2 linked regions of the Homo sapiens genome follow. The protein of the gene in region 1 purifies or fractionates together with the protein of each later gene. This does not show direct contact. Each region holds a gene or a part of one and is shown on either strand. Other genes may lie near its edges. The genes, in order: CYYR1 and PTPRF.

What was found.
Region 2: the proteins of CYYR1 (region 1) and PTPRF purify together in Homo sapiens (affinity purification with mass spectrometry; one large-scale study listed by BioGRID and IntAct). This does not show direct contact.

Annotation. Positions count from the first base shown.
Region 1 is NC_000021.9:26,469,002-26,472,611, forward strand, and holds part of CYYR1 (cysteine and tyrosine-rich protein 1 isoform 1 precursor), read right to left. Parts: intron 2,698-3,610; exon of another isoform or gene 1,750-2,697; intron 1-1,749.
Region 2 is NC_000001.11:43,617,705-43,621,171, reverse strand, and holds part of PTPRF (receptor-type tyrosine-protein phosphatase F isoform 1 precursor), read right to left. Parts: intron 3,437-3,467; coding exon 3,261-3,436; intron 2,543-3,260; coding exon 2,423-2,542; intron 2,125-2,422; coding exon 1,970-2,124; intron 1,885-1,969; coding exon 1,599-1,884; intron 1,493-1,598; coding exon 1,314-1,492; intron 1,078-1,313; coding exon 951-1,077; intron 719-950; coding exon 593-718; intron 335-592; coding exon 180-334; intron 76-179; coding exon 1-75. UniProt on the Homo sapiens protein: Possible cell adhesion receptor. It possesses an intrinsic protein tyrosine phosphatase activity (PTPase) and dephosphorylates EPHA2 regulating its activity.

The sequences.
Region 1 (3,610 bases):
ACCATGGTGGGCTCTGAATGCAATGTAGAATGTATAACATGTAGCTATCAGAGATTCTTTGAACATGGTAGTGAATATGCTTTGAGAAAACCACTCTCAGCAGTCAACAGAGGCAGAGGTAGATAAAAGAAAAGCTGCAACAATGTAATGGCATATGTGAGGGATGATAAGGGACTCATGACAGTGAGGGAAAAACATTCTAACAGTCCTTGAGCAACCAAGTCTTTAGGTGATGACTGGGTGTGTGGAGAAAGAGAGGAGAAAGTGAAAGAAGGGGTTGAGGTATTAGGTACCAAGTACAGGACTCCTATAATTGGAGGGGGGTGGAACCATTACAGAAATATGAAGAAGACAAAAAAGGAGGACAAGTAGGTTAGGAAATGAAGATGAAACATTTAATTTTCTGAATCTTATATGAAAAATTTTCTTTATTTTGTTACTGTACCATATGTCAGTGTTTTAAGAAAGTTTTTAAATTTTAAATAATTTTATTTTTTTGAATTGACAAATAATAATTGTACATATTCATGGGGTACAGAGTGATGTTTTGATATGCATAATGTATAATAATCAAATCAGGGCAACTGGCATACCCATCATCTCAAACATTTGTCATTTCTTTATGCTGGGAACATTTAGTATCCTCCTTCTACCCATTTGAAACTATATATTATTGTTGACTATAGTCATCCAGTGGTATAGAACACTGGAACTTATTCCTCCTATCTAGCTGTAATTTTATATCCTTTAATAAATTTCTCCCTATCCATCCTTTTTCCTACCCTTCTCAGCCTCTAGTATCCTCTGTTCTACCTTTTAATATACTTTATGATGACTATACATAAAAGTCTATTTTGTAGTGGTTTCAGTTCCTTTCTCTAGTGTTGAAAAAGAAGTACTCCTTGAGCTGAAATTTATCCACGTTTCCAAGAACTGAATCATTTTGCAACATCTGAGCAACTCCCTCAGCAACCAGTCTGATGAACTGCCAGTAGCTGAATCATCATCAGGATCCTGATGCTGCTTGGAAACTGACATGCCTTAATTGCCTACTGTGAATGTAACCCAAATCACAAGACCAGTGTCATAATAATGCAAATAAGTGGGCATGCTCTTAATACTAGAATGGCAGAAAGGAACACACAACATTTCAACAAACTTTTCTAAATGTCTTCTATTAGGTTGATGCAAAAGTAATTGCAGTTTTTGCCATTAAAGTAATTGCAAAAACTGCAATTGCTTTTGCAAACGAACCTTAATTTGTACTCTTTCTAATAAGAATTTGACAGTGTTCTGATAAACAGACATAGACATACATAGGGCTTCCACTGATATGCAGAAAAAAACTATGTTTTTGATATGGTTTGGCTCTGTGTCCCCACCCAAATGTCATGCCATTTTGTAATTCCCAATGTTGGGGGAGGGACTTGGTGGGAGGTGATTGGATCATGGGGGTGGATTTCCCCCTTGCTGTTCTCATGAAGTTTTTACAAGATCTGGTTGTTTCAAAGTGTGTAGCACTTCCCTCTTCTTTCTGTCTTGTGCTGGCCACGTGAAGATGTGCTTGCTTCCCCTTCCCCTTCCGCCATGATTGTAAATTTCCTGAGGACTCGCCAGCCATGCTTCCTGTACATCCAGTGGTACTGTGAGTCAGTTAAACCTCTTTTCTCCATAAATTACCCAGACTCGGGTATGTCTTTATAGCAGTGTGAGAATGGACTAATACAATTTTCTTCTGGATCTTTTTAGTTTGCCTATCTTTACCAAGAGCTTGATGATTTGAACCACTGACTGATTGCCCTGTACTTGGAGGATGTGAGGAAGCAGAATTGAGCCAATAAAGAGAAGAGGAAGAAGGAGCCACAGAACTGAGTGGGATGTCCCCTGAGCACTCCTTGGTGGAGCAAAAGTCTTGCAAGTCTCTAGTGCGCTGGGCAGGCTGAGGGCGTTCAGCCGAGAACACAGCTCTGTAAATACATCAGCGAGGATGCATATATACAGTTTCCCCAGTGCTCCCTCAGACCCTTGGAGGCTGGGCTACTCCAAGCTCTGTTTCCTGCAAAAAAATGGAGTAAGTCCTGTGGAGTCTAAATACACATTCCCTCTGCATTATACCCACGCCTCGACTTCATTATATCTAGGAGCACTGAGACAAAGAGATTTATAACAAACTTCATCCAAGCCAAGAATGAAACACGGCAGCCTCCATGCAGCAGGAAACCCATTGATCTGTTTCTTATAAGCATGTGGTTCTATGCTGTTTTTCTGCCAAAGCTTTTCCCTGCCTCCCACTTGAGGAGCATACACCAGCTGATTCTGCAGATTGACTCTACATCATTCTCTGTCATGAAGCCATGGCATGTGTTTATGCGTCTGTAACAAAGCGTTTATATTCTGCCATCTGCATAAAAACTGCTGAAGGACATTTCAGCAAGAATCCCTATGGTTTATGCAGCTGCATGTTGAACATGAAAATCTAAGATATGACAGTGGTCTTTCATTCATACAACCTTTGAATTTTGGTAAAGTTCTGATGTAATGTTAAAGAGTGGTATTTTGAGGACTACGCATCAAGATATAAACATGGCACATCTTTTATAATATCAGCCACTGGAAGACATTTGAAATAATATTTGTATAATTGTGGGCTGTATTATCTTTCTTTCTTGCACATAATAAAGTTTCACTGGAAGTAAACTTTTCAAGTATCAATTTTAGAATTCCTGATTCATCCTAAGCGGTTTTGTTCTTTTTTTACAGGTGAAATCATACTTAAAAGTTGTATGTATGCAGCTGGAGATACGTGCCTTTGAAATCCTTTCATAACCAATATTCTAATCTCCTATTTAAGTAGGGTAAATAGGCCATTTATCCTCAACATCTGATACAGCTGTCTACAATATTAAAACATTTAGCAATACCATGAAATTCGGAGAAGAAATGTAATGTTTTCTACCCACTCAGGCCAATATTTCTAAAGCTAATGTGGTGGGAAGATGCGTGGTGTTACCCAAACTATTCACAATTATTTCAGAAAATTTGGAAACAGAAGAAAATCATCCATAATTTTGTCACCCCAATTTAACAAATCATATCTTTAAATACTGTCTCTTAGTCATTTGTGCGTAGTTGCATCCTTGCAGTCACAGAGTATGGCCTATACTTTTTCACTTTGTATTACAATGCAAGTCTTTTCATTCTGCTGCATATTCTTCATAAGCTTTATTAATGGCTGCCTTAGCAGTTATTCCATCCACTATTCACTATTTTGAGGTTAATTTTTTATTATAATTAATGTAATGATGAATATCTTCTTACACATAGACTTTTTAATTATTTTTTTTTTAGAATAAAATTCCAGGAATTAATTAGCTGGCTTAAGTAACACATACATTTTATTGCTTAGAATACATTATAAAACTACTTTCAAAAATAATTATTTCATCTTGTAAGGGTATACAAGTACATTATCATTTAATATTTTAGTAAATTAAGTAAAAATTTAGGTCTTTGTTTTACTTGATCATTTCTTTTGATAACAGCTAGGTTTGACACTGTTTTACATCTTGTCCACTGTTTGTTATTCATATTGAGTGAATTTTTTGTTGTT
Region 2 (3,467 bases), on another chromosome or scaffold:
ACCACGCCCTCGTAGCGCATGCGCTCCAGGACGATGCTCAGAGTGATGAACACCCCGGTGCGGCCCACGCCAGCACTGCTCAGAAACACAGTTGGGTCAGGAGTCCTGCTTGCCTCATGCAGTGGGTCTGCCAGGCCTTCAGGCCCACCCACCCCAGCCCTCCAGGGGGCCAGTCCCACCTGCAGTGCACCGTGATAGGCCCATCCTGTCCAAACTGCTCCTTGGTCTTATGCACCTGCCCGATGAAGTCAATGAATCCCTCGCCTGTCTTGGGCACGCCCTGCTCTGGCCAGTCTGTGAACTGGAACTGCCGGATTGTCCTTGACTGCCCATCCTGGGAAAGGTGGGTGGGGTACATGATTAGAATTCGTGCCTTAGGCAGCCACCCCTCTGGACTAGACCAGGGTAGTACCATGATACAGGCATGCATCTGTGTCACTGCACCCGAGGCCACAGGGGGAGATGTGCTCACACCCTAATACCCACCCACCGCCTCAGATTTCTGAAGCTTGAGCTAAGGTACCATGCAGGCAGCCATCCACCCAGCGTGTGGACAGGCAGCGTTATGGACACACTCAATGCACTCACTCACCCGGGCATCCGTGACCTTGAACTCACGCAGGATATACTGGGGCATGTTGTACTCAGCCATCGGGTCAACAACAAAGTACTGGTAGCGAGCAGAGCGCTCTGCTGGCCAGTACTGGTGGCATTTCTCCTGTGGACAGAGGGTCGGGCCCCCATAATCAGGTGAGAAGGAATAGGGGAGGGGTGCCAGGCTTCACAGGATTCTGGGACAGATGCCTCAGGTAGTAATAACGGGCGCCTGAGGCCATGCTGACAAGCAGCTGGGGTGTCAAAGGAGACAGTAACATAGGCGGCAGCTCCCCCAAGGGTGGCTGGTGTTCTCCCAGGTATGACAGGGGCCCTGGGGGAAAGGGTGGGCTCACCCTGCCCATCTCCCGAAGCTTGGTCAGCATGACGATGATGGTGGAATTGTGCTCCCATAGCATGCGCCAGAAGTCCTCGGTGCTCTCTGCCAGAGGCCCCTGTGTAGCTATGTAGGCCTTCTGCTGTCTGGGGTGGACATAAGACTGGACATGCTGGAGGTGCTGCTGCCCCTAGAGTCTCCCCTTAGGCTGCCTAGCCCCTTGGGGCCCTGCTCAGATCACCCCTCCTCCAGGAAGTCCTCACTGCTCTACCCAGCCCTCTCTGGTCTTCTAGGCTGGCCCTACTCTGCTGCCCACCCCCACCAGCCAGGCACAGGCCTAGGCCCCTGTAGGGCATGGTGGGGCAGTGACATGCATGCTGACCTATAACCATCCAGGAAGCTGGCATTGATGTAGTCAGAGCCCTCCACACCACGGATGGGCTGCAGACACACACGGGTCAATTCGTAGGGCATGATGTTCACCAGCCGGTTCTTGAACTTGTTGCAGGGCAGGTTGGCGCTGATGAAGCGGGACGTGTGGGCCTTGGAGCTGGCCAGCAACTATTGAGAGGCAGGGATTGGTCAGGCCAGGCTTCCTGTGGGGGTGGGGGTCATCTGCATGACCCAGTCTAGGCCCTGGAGCCAAGCAGGCCCACCCGAGCCCCACCTTGAACTCGAGCTCCATGGCGGTCACACTCTCCCCTGGAGGCACTTGGCCCAGCTTCTGGATGTGGGCATACAGGTTGCGGGCAGGCACCTCTGTGTGGCCGCACGTGGCAGCCTCCAGCAGCGCCTCATGGATGAACACGTACTGGTCCTCCGTCTGCACCATGTAGTTCCTCTGTGATCGCATGCAGGTCACGTGGCCATAGATGTCCACCGTCTTCTCGTGCTTCATCCGCTCCAACATGGCATCAATCACGATGAAGCAGCCGGTGCGGCCCACGCCCGCGCTGCAGGACACGGGCTCAGCTTGAGGCACAGGCGCCCCCACCTCCCACCCCACCCACCCCTCTGGGTGGCACTGTACCCTCTCACCTGCAGTGCACCACCATGGGCCCTGCGTCTAGGGGGTTGCAGGCCTTGACCCGTCGTAGGAAGGCCAGGATGGGAGTTGGGTACTCAGGAACTCCATGGTCTGGCCAGGCCATGAACTGAAACTGACGCAGCTCGCGCTTCTCACTGGAGCCACTCTGGGGGACAAAGTGGGGACATACTGGCGACTAGGAGCCTACCTGCCATAGACTCAGGACTGAATGACCTGATGCTGAGGCCATACCCGCCACTTCCCCATGGGACTCAGAAGCCACACAGAGTAGCCTGAAGCTCCTAGCACTGTTCCCATAACATGGATCATCACATCACTCACACACCTGAGCCTCCGACCCTCCAACACCCAGGCTCCAGCTTCCCCCCGACCCAGCACACCACACCCAGGCCACTGTCCTTACAGTGTCTGGGTAAGAGATATGCACTGGGGAAAGGCTATACCTTGTGGAGTGCGAAGGTGCGCACAGTGTATGTGGCCAGCTCCACTGTGTCCAACAGGGTCACCTGAATAAGGCCACAGGTCTCGGTGCCACGGGCTGGCCAGTACTGATCACATTTTACCTGCAGGAGGATGAGCAGGGCAGGCTGAAGGAAGCCCACAGGCTCAGACGGGCAGAAGCAGGGTGGAGGCTGGTCAACTCCCTGGCTGTAGCCTTTCTGGCTACAAAGCCCCCCAGCCCTGAGCTCTCAGATCCATTGCCCCCTGTCCTCCACAAGCCACATCAGGTCCTCAAGCTATGTCACCGCCCTGCCCTAGCTAGTGGAATAAGGGTCATAATTGAAAATTATTTATTCAACGCCAGATCGCACCAGGCACATTTTCTGCCAAATTTACCCATAACGTTTATGTGCCATTTTCAAGCTCTGTAAATTTTACGTTCCAGTCAATGCTTTGCAGTCCAAAAACAGATAACAGCAGCTCTTTCCACTAATTAACTTAGGAGATGTGTTAATGCCCCAGGAACACTCCAGCATCTGGGGAACACATGAATACCCCGGGAACACGCCAGCAACTGGGGAACACATTAACATTCTCCGAAAATGACAGCATTTGGTGAAACATATTAACATCTTAAGGAACCCACTAGCATGTGGGGAACATGCTGTATCCCAGAAACACCCAGTATTTGGGGAGCATAATACCCCCAGTAACAATAGCATCTGGGGATCACTTGAGCGACTTCCTCCACAGAAGAAAGCGGCACAGAAGAAGGTGCCCTGTATCACCTTGTGGCTGGGCATTTCCCACCCGCCTCCTGGCAGGGCCCTGCAGCCTCACCCGGGACTTCTCCTCCAGCCGTGTCATCATGACCACAGTGGCCGTGCGCTGTTCCCACACCATCCTCCAGAAATCACCCATGGTCTCGGGCAGGGGGCCCTGCGTGGCGATGTAGGCATTCTGCTTGCGGTAGCCATCGATGTAGTTGGCATTGATGTAGTCACTCCCGGGGACGCCTATGGATAAGAAAGGAGGTGGGAGGGCATT